Regions from separate parts of the Homo sapiens genome. Here all the other regions are reported to be linked to region 1. Evidence: microRNA targets listed by miRTarBase, many of them from high-throughput screens and not tested one by one. Region 1 holds a microRNA gene; each other region holds the end of a gene's coding sequence.

Region 1 (7,778 bases):
ACCTCTGCCTCCCGCGTTCAAGCGATTCTCGCGTCTCGGCCTCCCGAGTAGCTGGGATTACAGGCGCGCACCACCCATGCCAGGCTAATTTTTGTATTTTTAGTAGAGATGGGGTTTCACCATGTTGGCCAGGCTGGTCTCGAACTCCTGGCCTCAAGTGATCCCCCCGCCTCGGCCTCCCAAAGTGCTAGGACTACAGGCGTGAGCCACTGCGCCGGGCCGGGCCAGTTTGCCTTTTCAATAACTTTTTATAGTTTTCTTCATAAAACCTTGCATTTCTTGTACTAGATACATTCCTAGACACCTTATGTTTTCGGTTACTCTTATCAAGTACTCCTAATCTCACCCCTCGTTTCCGCTGTCGCTCTAGAGTCTGCCAATAATGAGACAGAAAAAAATTATTGAACCATGCCCGGTAATTTTCTGATTCTCCGCGTTCTAGTGGTCTTCCACTAGTTTCGGACCACTGCTGTACCCGTAGCTCCAACTGCGCGAAACTCTTCTCAGGAAGCACTGAAAATGTCGCAACTCGCCCGGAGGCGGAGCCGGTACGGGCTGACGTCAAGGGCACACAACACCTCAGAGGCAGGGAGGGCGGGGCCGGCAGGGGGACCTGCTGCTGGAAGAGCAGCGGCCCGAGCCGGGGCCATGGCGAAGCTGCTGAGCTGCGTCCTAGGCCCCCGGCTCTACAAAATCTACCGGGAGAGGGACTCTGAAAGGGCCCCGGCCAGCGTCCCTGAGACGCCAACGGCAGTCACTGCCCCCCATTCCAGCTCCTGGGTGAGTCGAGTTCCTCCCCACCGAAGAACGTGGTACAGTCCAAACCCTTTACGGCCTTTTGCTCCCCAGAAGTGCCCATAATGGGAAATAAGGGGAGCCTGCTTGTCAAGCCAGTTATCCGCAAAATCTGCGCTCTGTGTGCTTCCTGAGTTAAAGTCACGCCTACGGACTGGCCGCCTCCTTTCTTTTTCGCTCTTTACCGCTTTCTCATTCCGACTGCCACTCTTTGTTCTTTCCTCTCCGCGTCCCCCCGACCCTGTGTGTCGTGGTTCGTGCCGGTCCCAGTTGAGTCTTGAGTCCCGGGAAGAGACCCTGCGCGGACTGGGGAGCCGTTGAATTTTGCTGTCAGACTCCCAGTTTCCTCTTCTTCAGTGCCTCTTCATGCCTCCCCCGGCTCTGTTTTTATCTTCCCTTTACCCTCGCCTTGAATTTCAGAATGACTTTTACAGATCCTGTATCCGTCGGTCCTCCCCTCAACCCCCGCCCAACCTAGCCTGGAGACCCGAGTCATTGTATTCTGGAGAGCTGGCGGGTGGTGGTAGGCTGTTCTAAATATTCTCTTCCTTTTTATCAGTTGTCTCATTGTGTTACTGTCTCCTACAAACTGCCCGCTCCTACCCACATTCTCTTCTTAGTCAACTACTCTTATTTCTGATGCTTTTCTTTCCTTCTTAGATTGTCTAGGTGTCTTTTCTTTCTTCTCAAACTAACCCTTCTCCCCACATGCACGCGCCTGCAATCCATTTGAAACTAGGCTGTGGAAAAGGAGCAAAAATCGTCCAATGCTGCTTTCACTTTTGCTTCCAAATCCAGCTCCCTGTGTTTGTTCCCATGGTCAGGGGTGGGAAATTAGGTTCAGAGTGAGGGTGAGGAAGAGGAGTTTCTGTGGGGGCCAGGGATGTTTCAAGAGAGATAGTCAACGAGACTAGAACCAGAGGACACACAGCAGGGCTTCTGAAAGGGAAGGGAAAGGACCTGCCAGTGGGCAGGGTCCTTAAGGAGGCCATCTGTTTTGGCAGGATACGTACTATCAGCCCCGTGCCCTGGAGAAACATGCTGACAGCATCCTGGCACTGGTATGTCTACCCTGGCATCTGGGACTCTGCATCTTTCAGACCCACCTGTCCTCTTGAACTTAGCCCTCCCTAACTTGGGAGCAACAGTGCCCTGGGGTTGGGGGATGCCCTGGGCTCTGCAGCAGACCTCTCCAACACAGACACACAGGCACACTCTAAATGTGCATACTTGGCACTCCCCTTTGGTATGTAGCACTGCTTTCTCTGGGGGCAACCTGAGCCGTAAGGAAAACATGTTTACTCTTGGGACCATCTGCAGGTGCTAAGTCCTGCAGTTCCCCAGTGACCTGTCCTCCCTGGCAACTAACCTCTTTGGCTGCAGGGACAGCTGTTCTTTCTGGCACAGTTCCTGTGGTGACGTTTGCGCATCTCTTGGGGACCAGGCCAGGGGCTGTCCTGAGCAGGGCCAATTGAAAAGGCTTGATTAACTTGAGTAGACAGAGAGACTGCCTTTAAATGTGATGGAATTATGTCTGGAGATGGAAGACATAATTCTTCCATAATTCCAGAGGAAGAAAATAGAGCCTGTACCAAATTTTCCCAGCCTCCATTACATTGACACACTACTTTTCAACAAATACTGAGCACCTACTGTATTCATGGTGTCATACACCAAATATGATATGATATCCCTCAGGTTGTCCATCTTGCTCAGAGTGTATAGTATATGCCTGGAATGGCAGGTGTGTGTGTGTGTGTGTATTGATTGCCTGTCCCTGTCTCTCTGCTGCAGGCTTCAGTATTCTGGTCCATCTCTTATTACTCCTCTCCCTTCGCCTTCTTCTACTTGTACAGGAAAGGTCAGTGTGGTTTCAAAGGTGGTGGGGTAGCAAATGGGCAGGTTGTTGGCAGATGAGCCAGCTCCCTAAAGAGGAGAGGGGACCTGTGAAGATGGCTTGGCTTCCCTCTTCCATCAGGCATCTTCTTCCTCTTAGGGTATGGCTGTTCCAAACAGGGAGTGTGGGGTGGAGGTTGGGGCTGAACTGGGAAGAGGAGCTGAGGGACATTGCGGAGAGGGTCTCACATTGTCCCTCTCCCTTCCCAGGTTACTTGAGTTTGTCCAAAGTGGTGCCGTTTTCTCACTATGCTGGGACATTGCTGCTACTTCTGGCAGGTGTGGCCTGCCTCCGAGGTAGGTGGAGAGGAAACCTGGTTTGAATCTTATCTGTCACTGTCACTGGTTAAAAATTAAGTACCTTGTGCAAATACATTTTAGTGATGGGCCTCCGAGAGGGAATCATTGAGAATGGTTTAAGGCATGATCTTTTCCTTAAAAGACTTGGGTTATAAATATGAAAAAATAACTGAAAAGTAACAAAAAGGTTTGCTTTTTTTTTTTTAAGAGATAGGGTCTCACCATGTTGTCCAGGCTGGTCTCAAACTCCTGAACTCAAAGTGATCCTCCCACCTCAGCCTCCCGAAGTACTGGGATTATAGATGTGAGCCACTATGCCTGGCTGCTTTTATCTAGAAAAGATGCATATACCCTACAACAATTCTATATATGTATACATACTAGGAAAACTCCTGCACATGTATAAACAATATAGATGTACAAGAATACAGCATACAACATTGTTTGTAATAATCCTAAGCTGGAAACAACTCCAGTGGCTACAAATAGTAGGATGGATAAAATATGTTCTGTGTGGCCGGGTGTGGTGGCTCATGCCTGTAATCCCAGCACTTTGGGAGGCAGAGGCCAGTGGATCACGAGGTCAGGAATTTGAGACCAGCCTGACCAACATGGTAAAACCCCGTCTCTACCAAAAATACAAAAATTAGCTGGGCATGGTGGCACGTGCCTGTAATCCCAGCTACTTAGGAGGCTGAGGCAGGAGAATAGCTTGAACCTGGGAGGCAAAGGTTGCAGTGAGACGAGATTGCGCTACTGCACTCCATCCTGGGCAACAGAGCAAGACTCCGTCTCAAAAAAAAAAAAAAGTTCCATGCAATAGCCATGCAAGAGAACACTATATAGCAATGCAAATGAACAAACTGTAGCTACGCTCAACAACGCAGATGAAGCCAGGTGCAGTGGCTCATGCCTGTAATCCTAGCAGTTTGGTAGGCTGAAGCAGGCAGATCACCAGAGGTCAGGAGTTCAAGACCAGTCTGTCCAACATGGTGAAACCCCGTCTCTACTAAACATACAAAAAAAAATTAGCCAGGTATGGTGGTGAGCACCTGTAATCCCAGCTATTCGGGAGGCTGAGGCAGTAGAATTGCTTGAATCCAAGAGGCAGAGGTTGCAGTGAGCCAAGATTGCGCTACTGTACTGCATCCTGGGCAACAGAGCAAGGCTCCATCTCAGAAAAAATAAAATACAAAAAATTAACTGGGCATGGTGGCACATGCCTATAGTCTTAACTGCTTGGGAGGCTAAGGCATGAGAACTGCTTGAACCTGGGAGGCAGAGGTTGCAGTGAGCCAAGATAGCACCACTGCACTCCAGTCTGGGTGACAGAGCGAGACTCTGTCTCCAGATAAACAAAAGCAATGCAGATGAATTTCTCAAATGTTGTGTTAAATAGAAGAAGCTAACCACAAAATAATGTATGCAGTATGTTTTCATTTATATAAAATTCAAAAGGGATGTGCATGTTTGAGGTAGAACACCGAAGACAACAAGGGCATGGTTTTCTTTTTTTTTTTTTTTTTTTTTGAGACGGAGTCTCGCTCTGTCCCCCAGGCTGGAGTGCAGTGGCGCGATCTCGGCTCACTGCAAGCTCCGCCTCCCGGGTTCACGCCATTCTCCTGCTTCAGCCTCCCGAGTAGCTGGGACTACAGGCGCCCACCACCACACCCGGCTAGGTTTTTTTGTATTTTTTAGTAGAGATGGGGTTTCACCGTGTTAGCCAGGATGGTCTCAATCTCCTGACCTCGTGATCCACCCGCCTCGGCCTCCCAAAGTGCTGAGATTACAGGCTTGAGCCACCGCGCCCAGCAAGGGCATGGTTTTCTCAAAAGTTAGGAGAGTGATTACCTGGGGTGGGGGAGAACAGAGTGGGGGAGAGCCCTGCTGAGAGGTGGCTGTGTTCTCTTTGTTGACCTAGGTGATAGTCACATGAATGTTTGCTTTGTATTTTTTAAACTGAATATATGTTTTATGTACATATGTTGTATCTCGCAATTTAAAAAAATAAAGAGGACAGATCACCTACCCCTAGTGGGTACATAAGATGACAACCAGGTGATGGGCGATGCTTCAACATGGGGGTGGTGGGGTCAGGGCTGGATGGTCGCAGTTGGGTCCAGGACCTTCTGCCTGAGGTGTTCTGCCCCCTGATCTCTGCAGGGCTGGGCTCTCTCCTCAGAGAGGCCTTCCCTGACCACCCTGTCTAAAAGTAGCTCCCACTGCTCAGTTTTGTCTTAGTTTTTTATTTTATTTATTTTTAATTTAGAAAAAATACAGAAAAAATTAGCTGTGCATGGTGGCGGGCGCTTGTAATCCCAGCTATTTGGGAGGCTGTGGCAGGAGAATCACTTGAACCCGGGAGGCGGAGGTTGCAGTGAGCCGAGAGCACATCATTGCACTCCCGCCTGGGCAACAAGAGCAAAACTGTCTCAAAAAAAAGAAAAAAGAAAAAATACAGAAAAGTCCAGAGAACAAAATATAAAAGCCTTTTTAAATTTTTTGATGTATAGTTTTGTGATTTTTTTTTTATATATAGTTTTGTGATATTTGCTTTAAATGCTTTCTGTCAACAAAATACTAAAGCACCACAGTTAGGGTTGGAGTTCCCATTGGAATCCTTTCAGTCCCATCTTCCTCTTTCCTCAGAAGTAATAATTGTCATTTGGTGTGGGTTTTTTTTTTTTCTGGCACATACTTTTATGAAACATATACCTCAGTTCCTCAAGTCTAAGCTGCCATCAATTGTAAAATGAATTCTAATTTCAGAGTTTTCAAGGGTTAAAAAATATACATTTTAGAATCTATGAAATATGGTATCTATAAGCAGTATGTATTATTTTGCACATTTTACATTTTTGGCATAAATGTTGTACAAATCATTCTGCAGCACACATCATTCTCTCATCATATCGTTTTGGGGGAATACCATTGATGACACATAAAGTTCTGGTTCATTCTTGTTGTATTTTCTCTGTAGCACTTATCCCTCTCTGAAATGTTGTTTATTGTCTTCTCCTGGCTGTACCTAACCCCAACCAGAATGCCAGCTCTCTGAGAGCCAGGAGCTGTGTATCTCATTTCCTGCTGAGTCTCCCGTGTGTAGTACGGTGCCTGTCTGACACACGACACCTGCCAAGTCAGTGAGGAGAGAAGTTAGGGTTTGAGGTGGCTCAGCAGTGAAAGGAGAGTGGATGCAATCACTGACTGTGTAAGTGAAAAGAGAGAGGAGAGAGAGTCAGCACTGAGAGTTGCTTCTGCTTCAGAAAGGAAAGCAGAAAGGAGGCAGGAGAGGAACTGTTCAGGAACTGGAAGGAGTCAAGGATGGGCCCAGGAAGCAGAGGCAGGAAGAATCTTGAGGGACAGGGAGAATGCTGAGTAGTACAGTTGAAGAGAATGAGGATAGAAGAGTCAGGAATTCAGTGAGGAAGTAATTATGGGCAGGAGTCGGAGACTCTGAAGCCAGATGGCAAGGGGCTAGAATATACAGAAAAGAGGCAGAAAGCAAACATTGGAGAAGAATGGCAGTGAAAAATAGAGAAATTTGATATTCGCAAGGGAGAATAGTATTATATGATAGTGTTTAATAGTGTCATTTAATAGGTTATATGACAGTGTTTAAAGACTGAGGAAGAGGAACATTCTGGAAGATGGTAGGTTAAGGATTGTCTATAAAGACACAAACTGCAGAAGCTAGGGAGAAGAAGCGTCCTGTAGCCAGTTGCTGGATTTGGAGGAAGGGGGTTGGCTCACATCTATTTCTCCGCATCCTATGCCCTCAGTTCCTTTTTCTTTCACTTTTTCTTACAGGGCCTTCTTCTAGCCCATCTCCAATTCTTTTCCTAAAACCTAGGCTTTCTGCTTCCCAGTTTTCCTAGCACTGTTTCCTGTCCTTTTTCTACCAGGCATTGGCCGCTGGACCAACCCCCAGTACCGGCAGTTCATCACCATCTTGGAAGCAACACATCGGAACCAGTCTTCAGAAAACAAGGTGAGAGGCCCTAGGAAAAGTGCCACACAGGCACCCAATAGCAGCTTTCTCAGTTGTCCCTCAGAGCACCAGACACTGGCTTCTGCAGGAAGAGGAGGTGTGTTTTACCACCCACCACACTGGGTGTTTGCTTGCACATTGCTGTATCCCTTCTCACCTCCATTAGTGAACTGTCCACCTGAGGAATTTTTCCTCCCTACCACTTCTAATGGAATATTCTGCTAGAACAATCTTCCCCCTCCCTCACCTGTAAGAACTGGCTAAACTAGAAACATTCCACAATGTTTCTTTTTTCTTTTTCTTTTTTTTTTTTTGAGATGGAGTTTCGCTCTTGTTGCCCAGGCTGGAGTGCAATGGCACGATCTCGGCTCACTGCACTCTCCACCTCCCAGGTTCAAGTGATTCTCCTGTCTCAGCTTCCTGAGTAGCTAGGATTACAGGCACGCACCACCCACACCCTCTAATTTTTGTATTTTTTGTAGAGACGGGGTTTCACCATGTTGGCTAGGCTGGTCTCCAACTCATGACCTCAGGCGATCTGCCTGCCCCAGCCTCCCAAAGTGCTGGGATTACAGGCGTGAGCCACCACTCCTGGCCTCTTTTTTTTTTTTTCTTCTTTGAGACAGAGTCTCACTCTTACTCAGGCTGGAGTATAGTGGTACAATCTCAGTTTACTACAACCTCCAACTCCCGGGTTCAAACAATGCTCATGCCTCAGCCTCCTGAGTAGCTGGAATTACAGGTGCACACCACCACGCCCAGTTAATTTTTTTTTTTTTTTTTTGAGACGGAGTCT
Region 2 (7,778 bases), not on the chromosome of region 1:
GGAAGCCTTTCTTGAATGACTTACTGCATTTTCAGAGAATATGGCCAGGGAACAACTAAGTTACTTTCCTTCATAATCTGATTCAGTCTATATATATTCCAGCAAAATTCTGGCTATCAGCCTTCTAATGTGGTCCTGAAACTGTGTGTGTGTGTGCATGTAAGAGACCGAGAGAGGCTGTTTTCTATCGAAAAGTTCAAACTATCATGTACTTATTTTATCCAGTAATTCAATTTTTTCACCTTTGACTAAACCATCTCAGAATTGCCTGTCTTGCAGTTCTTTAGCTTTTGCTTACCTGGTTCACAATTCAGTGTTAAACAGGAAATGGAGAAACAGGCACCAAGAAGAAAGGAGAGAGATGAGGCGTTCTATGAACATCTGTCCCTGATGAATTCCAAGGAAAGACGGGCCCACTCATGAGAGATCTACTACCCCCCGCAACCCATGTATTCTAGGATCCACGCAGCTCTTTTCAGGTGCTTGTTATTTTGTGGCCATGGTAGCATATTTTGAAAACTCATACCATTGTTGTAAGATTCACATGTAAATCTGAAATCTATTATTTGGTGAATAACAGTACGACAGTACAAGGAAGCATGAGAAGAGAGAGGGAATCACTTTTGGAACTTGGTTAAAATTAGTACAGTCAACTTCTTCCAGCATTTACTGTTTTTATTTGCCATTTGTTATAAAAATTGGATCTTTATTTTACACAAAAGGTACTTTAAAAACAGTGAAGTTTACCAAAAGCTACTGAATCTGTGGCAAAGGGATTTACCACCAAAAATGCAGATTTACACAGTAAACCTGAGGGCCAAAAACATTGAACAAAATCTTCCATTTTCTAATAATTCATTACCAGAAGCAAAAACAATTGTACACAGATAAATATGTGAAGGTTAACAAATGCTAGCTTTCACTCTTGCACTAACCAAATAAAATGTCTCTATTCCAGATTGGCCCATTATTTCACTAAGTGAAGTATTTGAAGAATTTAAAAAAAATCTTCTTGTAAACATTAATATTTAAATACAACATATATATGCACGAACACATCCATTCTAACTCTATACCCCTTTGTATTCTTAAAATTGCACCATCTCTGTTAGAGATAATGTACAACATGCAGAAGGCATTCATAATTGTTTTTCTCAGCAGTAGTGTATTATACAAGTTAAATGCAAAAGTTAAATATGAAATTAAACTCAACTGAAAGCCATCTCGACTCAGTACTTTGGCTCATTATTCTATGTTAATGCTTTAGTGCTGATGAAATTATTCATATAAAAAATCTGAAGAGAATGTAGCCTGTTACCAAAGGTATGTAGTAGATAGCTCCCTGTGGATACAGAAGTGATGGACAAGAAACAGAAGGAAACCAGTGAAATAAGACTGCAGGTTTTCACTGCTTCAGCTTTTCACATCCAGCTGAAAAGAAATAATTATATCGAGGGCATTCTGCAACAGTAATTAGCTTATACTATTTCAAATATATATATGATGACTTCATAATACAAACTAGGATGCAAAATAACTCCTTCCCTCCCCCACCATTCTGTCTGTTTCCAGATAGAAATAAACAGATTCTGATGCAATGTACAGTTACTGAAAACAAAGCAGATCTACAGTTACATTGTCCTGCTTTGGGTACAGATCAGCTCTAAATACTGCAGGATGGGCAAAGTAAAACTACTCAATGAGACATAATTACAGGCACTGGCTTCCTCCTAAATAAATACATGCTCAAATATCATTGCAAATCTTCTGGCACAAATATATTCTGTTACTGTACAATTGCTGATCAAATTTAGTGCGGTAGGTGAGTGGAGAAGGAAAACAACATACCTTATGTGCATAGGATGATGCTAAGAGAATGTGAAGATGGAAAGATGAAAAGAAAATTTTATTGAAAACACAAGAAAATAATGTTAAGGGCACAGAATAATTGTTTGATTATTTTAATGGTTTTTGAACCCATCAATATTATGCAATATTTTAATTAAACATAAAATTTTAATCACAAAACACTTGAACCGAAAAAAAATTTTTCACTATCAAACAATGTTATGCAAATACATCACTGCAGTGCACCACAGCACACCTATTGGAGCTATGCCACAGCACTGAGATACTGAGGATCTCTATTTACCCTGTTTAACACAATGTGAAGTGACATAAAATACAGTGACATACAGGGGAAAGAAATTAAGACTGGGAGTGAAGAATGAAAAGATAGTATCTGTGTGCCACACAGATGTACCCTGATGTAAGTTAGGAAAAGAACACTACTCCTTTACTGGAATGCTCAAAAACACTTAGGTTCTCAGATTAAGGTTGAGCATGTGATTTCTTCTAAATGTCATAACTTAGGGAACAGAGCACTTCATGATTAATGAATTAAAAAACGTGCTATCATACTTAATTTAATCTACAACCTCCTGCAATTTTGAAAAAAAAACCACTAGATATATCAAAAACTAATGCTATAATTTGCATATATGAAGTATGTGTGTCTGTGTGTGCATGCAAATAAAATTAATCCATGCCATTACTACCGTAAGCTATGAATTTTGTTCTGAATAACCTCCACATTTATTTTTTGGAAAATGCATATGTATTCTTGAAATCAAATGCCAACGAAAGTCTCATAATTATAATTTAACAAACTTAATTTTCTTCATTTAAAATTCTCTTATGTGAATATGAACACTTGTAAAATAAAGATCTGCTCCAACAGTACAGTAAAGGTGGTATTAACACCCTATTTTTTATGTGAAGTAGTAGCCTCATTTTTCCTTGCATCAGGGCTACCTTGTCTCAAAAGCGACCTAAACACTGGTGTATAAGGTTTAAATTAAAAGATGTAAAACCATGGCATCAAGAACAACATAGATTGCACCAATAATTATACCCTAGTGTGTGGAAAGCAGTTTATAATATTCATTATTAATCCTGCTAGTAAATTCTTCTAGAAATTTACGTAGGTGATAAGGAAAATTTAGCCAATGACTTCTGCAGTTGAACCAAACCAGTGACGAGCCATGGAGAAGTTCGTCAGGTGAATGGTAGCAAATCTGAATTTTGTTTTGAAATTCTAGCTAGTTATGTGGCCAAAAACATTTAAGCACTTTTGGCATATTCATGTCCAAAACTTAATCACATGCCACACTGGAATCAGTATACATGATAATTCTATTGTGAAACACTAAAATAAACATCAACTCACACTTTAAAAAATGAAAATAACAACGAAAAACATGGATATAATTAGAATCTGTTTTCTGAAGTCCTAGAAGTTTCATCAGTTATACCTGCTTCCCTGAGAGCTGAATGTTCTGACTAAAGGCAAGTTTTGGTAAGTAGTTTATTTTTACACTGTTCCTTTCCGTTCAGAATAAACAATAATGTGTGAGGCAGTGTGTTTGGTGTCCTATATTCCTGATAGCTAATATTATTCAAATTTCATTTGATTTGAATAATTCTTTTCTTTGAACTTTAGTGCAGGAGTGTGTGGCAGGTGAGGGGAAGCTCTATTTGCTATGCTTTAAAGACTCACTTTCATCTTTCTGGAACAAAGCAAGAGAAAACACATACCACGCACCACAATTCCATATACACAGTACTGTTTACCTATAGTGTTTTCCAGTTTTGTGTAGGTGCAGTTAATAGATTTCTTCATAGTTATATCCAAAATGAAGAGGTGGCATCATAATGCCTAGACCCTTAGGGAAAAACATATTAAAGATGTACATTTCCCAAAAATGAGTCAGTTGATTTTATTCATTAAAAATATGCATAATAAAAGGCCAAGCACAAAGCTCTTTATAAAAAGGAGCAAAATGTATTTTCCAGAAGAGTTAGATAAAGGCATGAGATGAATTTCAGTTAAATGGATCTATTTCTTTGTGGGTTTTGAGAACTCATTTTAGACACTGAATAGAGGCTGTTTTACATTATAATCATAGCTAGAGATTACATAGATGGAGGGAAAAAAAGTCTTTTGCTTTAACTCTTACTAAATTTCTATAAAGTATTTTAAAATCAATTTAAAAACCAAATCTGTACCTCTCCCCTCTATCACAGTTTTTGTAAGTAATTAAGAATTTTACCCGTACGATTGCACAGCAACTATGGAAGAGAGAGGTAGATGATTCGGCCACCCTCTCACAAGGAAACCCCCAAATACTTTAGGGCATTAAACACAAGGCTTTTGTTATCCAAAAGTAATTAGTTGCAGAGTACAAAAACATTTTGGAGCAGAATGTACATAAACATGAGTCATAAACAGCCGAAACCAAGAACACTAACAGTAAGTTCATAAAGAAATGCACAAATTCTATGTATCTTACAAAAATGATCCTCACAGATGTTGAATCCAAGATTATACAATAGAAAATATTTATATGTTTTACATTTAATATAAAAATTCTTAACAAATAAAAAAAGGCCTTGATGATAGACAAGAAGAAATTTTAGGGAATACATTAATTTTCAGGATGCCCCGAGGATAATACATCTTAAATACTCAGCTCCTGTTCTAGGCAAAGGCCAAATGCAGGCATTTTCTCAGGGTTCATCATTGGTGTTAAGAGAAAACCAGGTTAAGGAAGACTCAAGCAAGCTGGGAAAGGAAGTAAAAATTAAGCCAAAAAAGAATTCTGCCAAGCACAACATACCCTATCTAAAAAAATTTAGGAACATAAATCAAAGACAGTCGTGAGTATACATCAAGAAAATTCATATTGATGAGTTTATGGTCTTGGTGATAAATATCAAAACAGGAAGTCAGTTAAAACAAGTGTGCAAATAAGTAATGGGGACTGGGGGAAGAAGAGGAGAGAATACCTATACAATCTTGAAGGTAAACACTGCAAGGAGGAATTTAGTCATTTCATAGCTCCCAGTCCACCCTGGATGTGCATTTCTTGCAACATCTCAATAAGTTAAAGAACAGTTATTCACAAAACTTCAGGTTAGTGTTAACAGTTTTTACCTGGTTAATTTAGGGCTAGACACTCAGTTGCTTTAATAAGACATTTAGTTATGGTTCATCATAATAGTCACCCATTCTTCATCTTTATTAACTTAGAAAATTTTACTTCTCATTTAAAGCCCTGGAGCATTTTTTTTTTTTTTTTGAGATAAGAGTCTTGCTCTGTCACCCAGGCTGGTGTACAGTGGCACAATCTCGGCTCACTGCAACCTCCACCTCCCTGGTTCAAGCAATTCCCCTGCGTCAGCCTCCCAAGTAGCTGGGATTACAGGCGCACGCCACCACGCCTGGCTAATTTTTTTGTAGTTTTAGCAGAGATGGGGTTTCACCAGGTTGGCCAGACTGGTCTCGAACTCCTGACCTCAAGCAATCCGCCCATCTTGGCCTCCCAAAGTGCTGGGATTATAGGCATGAGCCACCACGCCCGGCCGAGCATACTTTTAAAAATGATTTTGAAACACGGGTCTCTTTTCTTTAAGTCAACATTTGTCTAAGCACGTCTGTAAACGTTCTGTTACAGGGAGAGGAAGAGTATTGAGCAAGTTCTCCTCAACAATCAGACAGTTCCGTTTTAGGGACTGACATCCTTCTAGTTCAGGAGGAAGTGTTTCCAGGTAATTACCAATGAGCTCCAGATGAGTAAGGTTTGACAGCTCACCCACATGAGGGGACAAATTCATCAAGCTATTTTTCCCCAAAAGTAAACACTGCAGCTTTTTGCACTGAAACAGCCCATCTGGTAGCATCTCAATCTGGAAAGGGAAGAAAAAAGAAGCTGGTAAAATAGGTTTTTGGTGGCTTATGATAAGACATTTACCTTTTTTCCAAAAAAAAAAAAACAAAACATTTCTGGAGGTTTATAAGTGATGCAGACTACAATGATGATAAATTTGAAGTAGATGAAAAGATAGAGGGAAAATGAAGACAGGAGTACAATGAGGAGTGAGGACTGTGGCTACCCTGGACACCTACATCCTTGCTGTATATGGGTGGGCAACGAATTTGGTTTTAAACACTCTAACAAGCAATTCTTAAATAAAATGTAGTTATACACACATTGTCGTTAAGATAAAAACAAACCAGTAAGAAAAATCATAATTACTCTTGAGTCCTTGATCAGAAATAAATTACCCTCAAGAGTCTTCATAAAAAGTTTACTGTGTAATGTAATGAATAATACCCTTAAAAACATCCTAAGAATCTGACAGCAGACTGAAAACCTTATTCTCTTTTTTAAAAAAGCCTACAGAAGCAGAGCAAAAAAATATGATTATATATACATGCACATTTCATTCCCCTCTACATACACATACACCTGAATATTTACTCTTGTTCCTTCCCTCTGGCATGGTTTCAACTAAATAATTTATAACACAGATACTTTTAAATATAATAAATATTATGCAAATTAGGTCAACTCCTAAAGCTGCTCCCGTTGACTGCTGCCCTATATGGTAGATAGGTTGCATGTCAATTTCTAAGGGCGCCACAGTACATAGAAGAAATAGGGTTTATTGAGGAAAGACCTCCAGAGAAGAAGTTGAGCACATACACAATCCCTTCAACTCATCACTTCACTGAGGGATAAGTCTGGCCTCAGCATAGATAGACTGCACATACCACCGCTCCCTACCCCCCATAATACTCTACATATTGGCTGGGGACAGGGGCCACCTACAAAAACTATGAAATAATGTAGGTTCCTTGGTTCCAAAACTGGCTTTGTTAGAAACAGGGATAAAAAGGGCACTCAGGGACTTGGCCTATATCCTCTGACGGGCTAATGCAGACCGGCTGGGAGACAAGTTTCTAGGGCCATCCAGAACTGTCTCTCCTCAAAAGGATAAATAGCTTTTATATAAACTAAAAAATGACCAAATTCCATTAAAAATGTTAATGATGTTGTAAACTCCATTCTCCTACATCACCCCTCCCTCTAACACACGTTCAGTGCTGTATATCCTTAAAAATAAATCTAATGATTGTCACTGCTAAGAACAACATTCCATATAGATCATCATTGTACACCAAAATATTAGATATAAACAAAGGGAAAAATATCTACCCTTTACTTTCATTTCCTTCCCAAGAGCAGATGCAAACCCTACATATGCAGACTTACATTGGGAGATGAGGCAGAGAGATGAGAAGAAATGCAACCTCTTTCTAAGGCAACCCCTTCTGCACAGAGATACCTGCAGCTCAGAAGTAGGATCAGTGATGTCCAAGTGAAGGAAAAAATCAGTCCTTTGCAGTGTGCATTATTAAGAGTGCTTGTTGGTGCCTATGAAATGACTCAGGCAAACTGGCTAAAAAAGAAATTAGGCTTGGCTCATTTATATTCAGTGAGCACGTGCTGAGTGCCTTCTAATGTGCCAGGCTCCCAGCTAGCTGCTGGGATCAAGTACTGAGTTAGAAAGACTGCCTTTGAAAACTTTAGCCTAATGCAGGTCACCATGGACATCTCAGCCTCAGCACTGTTGACATTGTGGGTGGAAAAATTCTTGCTGTGGGGCTGTCCTGTGCAGTGTAGGATGTTTAGCAGCATCCTCAGCCTCTACCCACCAGTTACCAGTGCCACTCCCCTTCCCAGTTGTGACAACCAAAAATGTTTCCAGACAAATGTCTCTTGGGAGGCAAAATCATTCCCAGTTGAGAAGCACAAGTCTCACGGAAGAGAGAAACATGAAACGATTACACAATTGTCTGTAATGAGTGGTATGAAGAAAAGTGCCCTAACCTGAGCTGCATTAGGCATTCCGTATTTCCCTTCTTCAGTCAG
Region 3 (7,778 bases), not on the chromosome of region 1:
AACAGAATTTTGAGATTTTAGTATAAAGTTAGTCATACAGCAACATGCTCTATATACCACTGAATCTCACCTTCTCATCCTCATGGAGTCACGTCAATGGGGAGGCTACAGAAGAGAAAACGGAGTTTTAGATGCTGCGTAACACTAGCCTTGAGTGACATGTAAAAGGCACTATTTTGTTCTTCTTCAACTATATATGTGAATTTTTAACAAAGGATTTAGTAGGACCCTTATAAAGGTAAAGAGATAGTAGAAGGAAGGAAGTGATGGATAGAGAGAAAGATAGACTTCTAAAAGTTGGTGGGTATTTCTAAATCAACTACATAAACAGGAAGGATTTAGAAAACTCTTTGAAAGCAGAAACACATCTTTAATCTTAGTACTTGGTCCCAAGTGCAAAGAGAGGTTTTAGATTGAGTCACTGTAGTAGTCGAGTTTCAGTTGCTAAGTCGTGGACTGACCAGAGAATTAGTCAATAAATTTTAGAGAATTAAAGTCAACATGAATCTTTGTTTTTGTGTTTTTAACACTGAGGAACGTAGCATACCTTGGGAAAAACCAATATCAGCGATTGCATTTTCAGCAGGTGCATAGATGGTGAGACTTGGTGGCCGGGCCAGACCCCAAGCTTTGCTGCTTGCTCATTTGCCTGACTCCATTTTCTGCAATGTTTCCATCTCACCTTGCACTTCTCTCATCATTATCCTTGTTTCTCTCCTTCTCCCTAGACTTCTCGGGCTTCCCGTTGGGCTGACCCTGACCACTTTGCCCAGCGACAGAGCTGCATGAATACGTTTGCCAGCTGGTTTGGCTACATGCCGCTGATCCACTCTCAGATGAGGCTCGACCCCGTCCTCTTTAAAGACCAGGTCTCTATTTTGAGGAAGAAATACCGAGACATTGAGCGACTTTGAGGAATCCGGCTGAGTGGGGGAGGGGAAGCAAGAAGGGATGGGGGTCAAGCTGCTCTCTCTTCCCAGTGCAGATCCACTCATCAGCAGAGCCAGATTGTGCCAACTATCCAAAAACTTAGATGAGCAGAATGACAAAAAAAAAAAGGCCAATGAGAACTCAACTCCTGGCTCCTGGGACTGCACCAGACTGCTCCAAACTCACCTCACTGGCTTCTGTGTCCCAAGACTAGGTTGTGTACAGTTTAATTATGGAACATTAAATAATTATTTTTGAAATGATTGCTATGCAGGTTTAAACTTTTTTAATGATCAAAACTATTAAAAACCAGAGTTCTTTGTTTAATCAAAATTGTGTTGGTTGTGAATATTTCAAAGCTGCTATTCCTTTTCCCACAGACATCATTGTCATGGCCATGTAGGGTGCCCTGCAGTTTCAAAAGCTCAAACTTCGTGGAAAACACAATAAGTCACTCTACCCATTATCAAGAAATAACTGAGCATAAGTTGTAACTTCATTATTCAACTTTGCCAGTGCAAATTGTTTTCCACTTCGAATCTTCAAATCCACTTGAACTTTTATCTCTAAAATGTCGCTGCATGAAAGAAAGTATTACGACTTCCAGGTAGGCAGTTCTAACTGAAATCTCTATGTTTGAGATAGATATATATGATAATCGTTTTTCATTGGGGGGGTGGGGGGAATTAGTACCAAGAAAACACTAGTATAATTAAGAAATGTTCAGTTTGCACAAAGAACTATCCAGATAACCCACCAGCATGTTAGTGAGATGGAAATACAGACCCACAACAGTAACCCAATACTTGCAGGGGTTGGGGGCACGGTTATAGATTCAACCATTGACCTAAGTCTGCGTAGCACTGGGAAGAGGCTTTGGTTTAGAAGCCAAGGAATAATGAGTATATTGGGGAGAACAGATTATTTACAAGATGAACTCTTTAATGTTTGTGAGAATCTCAAGTTTCAGAGTTTCTCTTTTGAGAAAGAAAAAGGGGTAATAAGGTAGAAATTCACACCAATGAACAAGAGGATTGCTGCAAAGTAACTGAGGAGATGTCTCGCCATTGGGACCCTAATGCCATTTTTGGTCAAACATTGTTTTGAGCAAGAATCTGGCAAACAAAATAATCAACAACAAATGTGAATATAGTTTCATTTACTTTTAATTTTTAAATCTGTGGAAAAGTTTAGTTGTGCTTCTTGTTAAAAAGAACATTTCTATCCCTGAAAATGCTATCTTGGGCTTATGATTATTGTTAAACTCCAAGTATAAACTGAAAAAAAAAACATATCCCTAACTCTGTTATGAAAAATGGAGACTTCTGATATTAAATGCTTTCTTCTACTTGGAAGAGGCCAGAGAAAACAGGGAAGAGAAAGACATTATTGAGTTTGACCATGTATTATGCTGAATAAACAATAAGCACTTTAGAGTCCCTCCCTCAAACTCTCATACATTTCATATTTCTTTTCCATTTATTTTCAGTTTTGTTTTAGAAGAAAAGTTCATCAGAGAATTTTGTTCTGATAATTTCAAGTGGCCATCTTAGGTCAGTGGAAACCGTAAGTCCATTGGACTTTACCTCATCCTTTCTTTGTAGACATCTGGGAGAGGAAGAGGAGCTTGTAATGATAGCACGGGGATGGTGCTGTAAACAGGAGTGAAAGTGTTTGTGGAAGTCCAGAGAAGTGACTCAACAGGCTACCTAGCTGCAGAACAAGGAGTAGAGCCCACATATCCAGATGGTGTTTTGAGAGGTGCGTAGACAGTGAAATTCAATTAAAGAGAGGATTTTCTCCTCAGCCTCATGACTCAGAACAGCTCCCTAAATACCTCTCTCATCTAATTGGACCCATCCATAGTCCATTCTCAAACATGTGACATTTTCCCCTAAGTAGATGTGATTATCTCTTAGGCATTTGTTGAAAAATAATTCTTAGGTCCATGGTGCTTGCACTTGTGTCTTTTCTATAAAATGTTTGGTCTTACAGGTTTCATGTCATTTAAGCTGCACTTCTCAGCAAGTTAAAAGATTAGCAGTTAATCTTTATTCATTTGGCCTTTGTGAATTTGTATTTAAATTATTTTTTTCAGGATTGGCAAATTATTCTTGTTTCTCCTTTACCAAAAAATAAATGCGATATTTTGTTCAATGACCCCAAAACCAACTTGAAACTTAGGTGGTCATATTGGCTTGCAAAGCAATGTCCCTAATTGTACCAGTCAGTCACACAAGTGGATTCAAGGACCTGCTTTGCCAGATTGACCTGTCACCAAGCTCACAACACATATCCTCCACAAACAACATGTGTTATGTGAAGAAAAATGGTAATTATAAATAAGAACAGGATATAACACACCTTTCATCCACTTTAAATCTCCACAGTTTCATTTTATGTCATTCTCTGAGCAAATCTCTTTGGGATGTGAGCTAGCGTGTTCTTCTCCCATTTGGAATATAAGGCTGGGAATAGAACAATGCTTAACAAATCAGTGAAGCTCGACAGTAATATGTAATTTTAATTCAGTTAGGAAAGAGTTGTATTGCATTGCAACAAGTTGACAAATCATAGCCATCTCTGTAGGGTGTCAGGAATTATCTCCTGGTCAACTTTAATGATAACTAGGGGTCCCTAAGTGGGCTAACATGTGCTGCATTGGAGAGAAGCCAAGGGCTGAGAGTACAGTGCCAACCACGTAATGAATTGCTTGCAGAAATTCCAAAGAGGACTCAGCCACTTATGGATTTCCACACAGCATCTTTTCCCAGCTCCACATTAAGACACAGGATCTTAAAAGTAATTTTTTAAAAGCTGGCTGTGTATTTATTTATATGAAAGTGTTATAAATATCAAAGCTTACAAATACATTAATACATATCACCTTTGTTGAAGCTAGCAAAATGGCTCAAAATTGAGACTGTAGAGAAAAATCCATGAAATAATCACGATAGTCATACCACAAAAGATAGCATAGCTAGGTGGGCCTACCTGGTCGTATCAACACACTTTCAGATAGATGCTTCAAAAAAAAAGGGAAAGCTTGTTACTGGAATCTTATGTGCATTACAGTTTAATTTCTTCTTGTGACAAATGGTGCTCAAAGAAGGATCAATCCGGTTGCATCCTTCAATTTCCCTTTTAGAATGACTTTTGGTTTTCATTACAGTAGGCTATGTTAGCCTTTATTTTGGTGGTTCTCAAATACCTGGTGACTTGAAAGAGTATTATGCTGGTGGCCTTTCATAAAGGTTACTGAACTTTAATCAGGGGTGAGATGAATGAATGTGAATAGGCCTATATACTATTTTTTTTAATTAAAAAAAAAAAAAACAGGGCACTTGATTTAAGAACAAACCTGTTTAAAGGGCAGGATCAGGGGGAAGACAGCCTTACTAGGTTGGAATCTGAATGAGATTCTTGCTGGACAAGGCTGAATTATGGATGCAAAAGCCAAGCAAACTTCCCAGACCTGGAAGTGTCTTGTGTTCCCTTGGGTCTCTTGAGATCTCCAGTATTTAAAAGTAGCAGTTATTGCCATGAACTCTCAAATAAAAATGCTCCTGCCTCTTACTTGTGAATATAATCAACATGCAGCCAGTACATCAGGACCGCAGTTGCTGAATTCATTTACCTAGTTCCCCTTTACAGCGACTATGGACAAGAACCTTTCAGTTGGTTTTGTCATTCTTGGCCAGATTTAACCAAGAAATTTCTTTCACTATCAGCCTCATTTTCTCAGGCATGCTTACAGGGACAAAGTTGTTTTGAGTTGAGTTCTCAGCAAATAAGCATTAATATCAAACTGTGCTAAACTTGTCTCACTTGGTATAAGAACTTCAGCATAAAGAGATTAGTTTATCCTTTGACACCAAGTCTTTTTTTTTTCTTTGAGACAGAGTCTTGCCCTGTCACCCAGGCTGGAATGCATTGGTGTGATCTCAGCTCAGTCACTGCAACCTCCGCCTCCCCGGTTCAAGCAATTCTCCTGCCTCACCCTGCTTAGTAGTTGGGATTACAGGCATGTGCTACCACACTGGGCTAATTTTTGTATATTTATTAGAGACAGGGTTTTGCTATGTTGGCCAGGCTGGTCTCAAACTCCTGACCTCAGGTGATCCACCTGCCTCTGCCTCCCAAAGTGCTGAGATTACAGGTGTAAGCCACTGCGCCTGGCCCCCCTTTTTTTTTTCTTTAAAAAAAAAAAAAAGCTTGGGGGATTAAGTACCCTAAGATAGTGGTCTCTCCCATCAGTTCAATAATGCTGTACAGAACCTCTGGATAAAAAAGCTGTTATTTACACCATAATTGTGATGATGGATTTGACTCCTCAAAACCATCTCTCCCCTTTTTGCCCTTTCCAAAAATCAAAGGCTTTTGTCTCCATGAGTTTTACCTAGTAGGGATTGTAGTTGTCACTGGTCTAGAGTTCCAATACATTTTATATCAGGAACCTCAGTGAGCTACCCAGAATTGGAACTTAACATGGCCCAGCAACTAGGAGAAGAAGGCAAACCTTGAGAAAGCTGAGCCCTCAGGATAGCACAGTCTCACCCTTGTTTAAAATCAAGTCAGGCTAGCCTTTCAGTCACTCTGGTTTTGTAATGATTTGCCTTTTAGGCCTCAGGCCATTTGATTTCTGCAATAGTTTTCTGTTCTTCTCCTACAGGAATACATCCCTGTCCTTTCGGTTGTAACTATTACTAAAACTAGGGCTATGCAAATGACCTGGTTACCATGTAATGAACCTTGTGTACTTATTTTGAGAGAACAATATGTATAGGATATGTTGAGGGGCAGAAAGAAAGACATCAAAAACTGGAACTATTTTAGGTGGCAAATTGTAACGCAAAAAACAAAAGTATACCTTATTTTGTATACGATGTACACTTGGGACAGAGTTTTCTAATATGTTGCCAATGTTTTTGTAGTGTCACCACAGGTCTTTTCTGAAGTGTTTTTCCCATTTGTTATAGAGTATTAATGACTTAGCGTAATTAAGCCCTCAAGTATGTGTGAGAGAGCGCGTGTGAGAAAATACAAAGCCATAGATATTGATTTACTTCACTGACCTGTGTAACTTTATGTCTGGGTTTCGCCATCCAAGATAGATTGTTTTATAGAGAGTGTCACCAAAGACTTTTTCCTTCCAATTTATAGAAGAAAAAAAAAAGAAATTATTAATAAATGACATGACTTTTCATCTGTGTGGTTTTCATTCCATCTTTTCTGTTGACTGCAGAAAGACGCCAGTTCTCAGGAGGATTCTGTGTGCCAGGAAAGGCCAAGCTTCCTTGGGGGTTCTGGGGTAGACAGGCAGATGAGGTTGGACGGAGAGTGTGCTGGATGTAGGTCCAGCACTCGCAGCCTGGCTGCAGCCCAGTGCCCAACCTTATGGGGAACATAGGGCCGCCAGCCATGGCCATCTTCCAGGCCAGATGCAGCCGGTGCTGTTGGAAGCAGGCCAGGGTGAACAGTGGTGATATGCCCAGTTCACAGCATTCCTTCGCATGAATGCTGGGACAAAGTGGCAGGGCCGAGCCCCAGAGCATCTGGATCCTGACAGCTGTGGCCATTACCCCTTTGGTTTCAACTACTGCATCGAGTTCATGAATTGCTGGCTTGCGAGGCGTATGTCACACTGGCATTTCTCAAAAGAATTTATAAGTGCTCCAGGTGTGTTGCAGCTCCATGATTCAGGGCCACTGTAGTAAGGTTTTATGTTCTCGCAATACTCCTTCCTCCTTTCCTATTTTCCTCCCTCGCTCCTTCCATTCCAGTGGTAGCTCTCCCCCAACTCTGTTACTCTTCTTCTATTCTCTTTCTTTGGGCATTTTTACAGTAAGAACATTAAGTCACCAATTTCACATATTTACAGGAGAGCGAATGGCAAATTGCATTTGGGAGCATTGATTTGCTTTATGACATCAATCACATTTTGTGTTCTGTATTTCACTTTGTCCATCTGTAAAATGGTGACTTTAAAATAGTTACTTACAAAGACTTTCTAAACAACAACTGCCTACTGAGCACTGAACAAGGCAGATGTCAAGGTGAGCTTGGACAAGGCCAGTCCAAGGCAAATCATCAGAGTAGGCTCAGAAAGGAATGTGGTGAACTCAGGTCCTAAGCTGGCACACTGTTATGATAGTGCCACTTGTAAAATCTGGCCCCAGGGTGTGTCTAATGATAGAATCATTCCCAAGTTGGAGAACAAATGAGAAGGCTAGTTGGAGAAGTAACTGTTAAATTTGGTTCTAACCTACCTCACAGATATTTCAATGAATGCTATAGCATGCAAAGATACCTTGAGCAAACCTCAATTACAGATGGTGTTGATTTATGGTCTGAGCATTTCCACTGAGTCCACTCATGAGATGAGAAAATGACAAGTTATGTGTAGATGCCTGCGTCATCCTACGTTAGCCTCCCCTGACTTTGTGCAGCCTCTGTGGTATGCAGGAACTCAAAATATTGGGGGAGAAATTAGACTAGGTTGGGTACTCCTCTAGGCTGAAACATGCTTTAGAGGATACAGTGGAGGTACTCACCTACTAGAGTGGATTCAAGGTTTTTATTAGCTTTTGGCCTCATGCAGATGAAACTGTCCAAGTTTACAGGTTAAAATTACAGTCTTTGGAGCCCAACCACCTGGGATCGAATCTTGACTCTTTGTCTTCACAGTTTTGTGACCTCATTGAAATTACCTGATCTCTCTGTGCCTCAGTTTTTTCAGGTAAGTAGTAGTCTATACTTTATAGAGTTCTCCTGAGGATTAAATGAGTTAATAAATGTAAAGTTCTTAAAATAGCACCTGGTACAAGCAATATGTAGTTTTTACCCAT

What was found. The annotated mature microRNA hsa-miR-4646-5p reads ACUGGGAAGAGGAGCUGAGGGA and lies in region 1 at 2,839-2,860, shown strand. An mRNA with a match to its seed (bases 2 to 7 or 8) in the 3' UTR can be bound and repressed. Matches are read on the target gene's strand: a 7mer-m8 pairs with bases 2 to 8, a 7mer-A1 pairs with bases 2 to 7 and ends in A, and an 8mer does both.
Region 2: the mRNA of LRRC8B is a reported target of hsa-miR-4646-5p. Seed matches in the 3' UTR shown: 7mer-m8 at 4,625-4,631.
Region 3: miRTarBase lists EXT1 as a target of hsa-miR-4646-5p. Seed matches in the 3' UTR shown: 7mer-m8 at 974-980, 7mer-m8 at 3,698-3,704 and 8mer at 4,397-4,404.

The regions. Positions count from the first base shown.
Region 1 is chr6:31,696,152-31,703,929 of GRCh38, reverse strand. It overlaps MIR4646 (microRNA 4646), which reads left to right and starts at 2,839; the gene lies at 2,839-2,901. ABHD16A (abhydrolase domain containing 16A, phospholipase) reads left to right here and starts at 606. Exons shown (of 20, transcript NM_021160.3): 1 at 606-780; 2 at 1,800-1,856; 3 at 2,590-2,656; 4 at 2,902-2,988; 5 at 6,897-6,982. The coding sequence starts at 649.
Region 2 is chr1:89,590,741-89,598,518 of GRCh38, reverse strand. LRRC8B (leucine rich repeat containing 8 VRAC subunit B) reads right to left here. Exons shown (of 6, transcript NM_001369817.2): 6 at 658-5,748. The coding sequence ends at 5,476. Among named protein-coding and RNA genes, the nearest start is that of LRRC8C-DT, 38 kb to the left of the region's middle. RefSeq lists an enhancer at 1-316.
Region 3 is chr8:117,792,848-117,800,625 of GRCh38, reverse strand. EXT1 (exostosin glycosyltransferase 1) reads left to right here. Exons shown (of 11, transcript NM_000127.3): 11 at 729-6,136. The coding sequence ends at 914. Among named protein-coding and RNA genes, the nearest start is that of SNORD168, 120 kb to the left of the region's middle.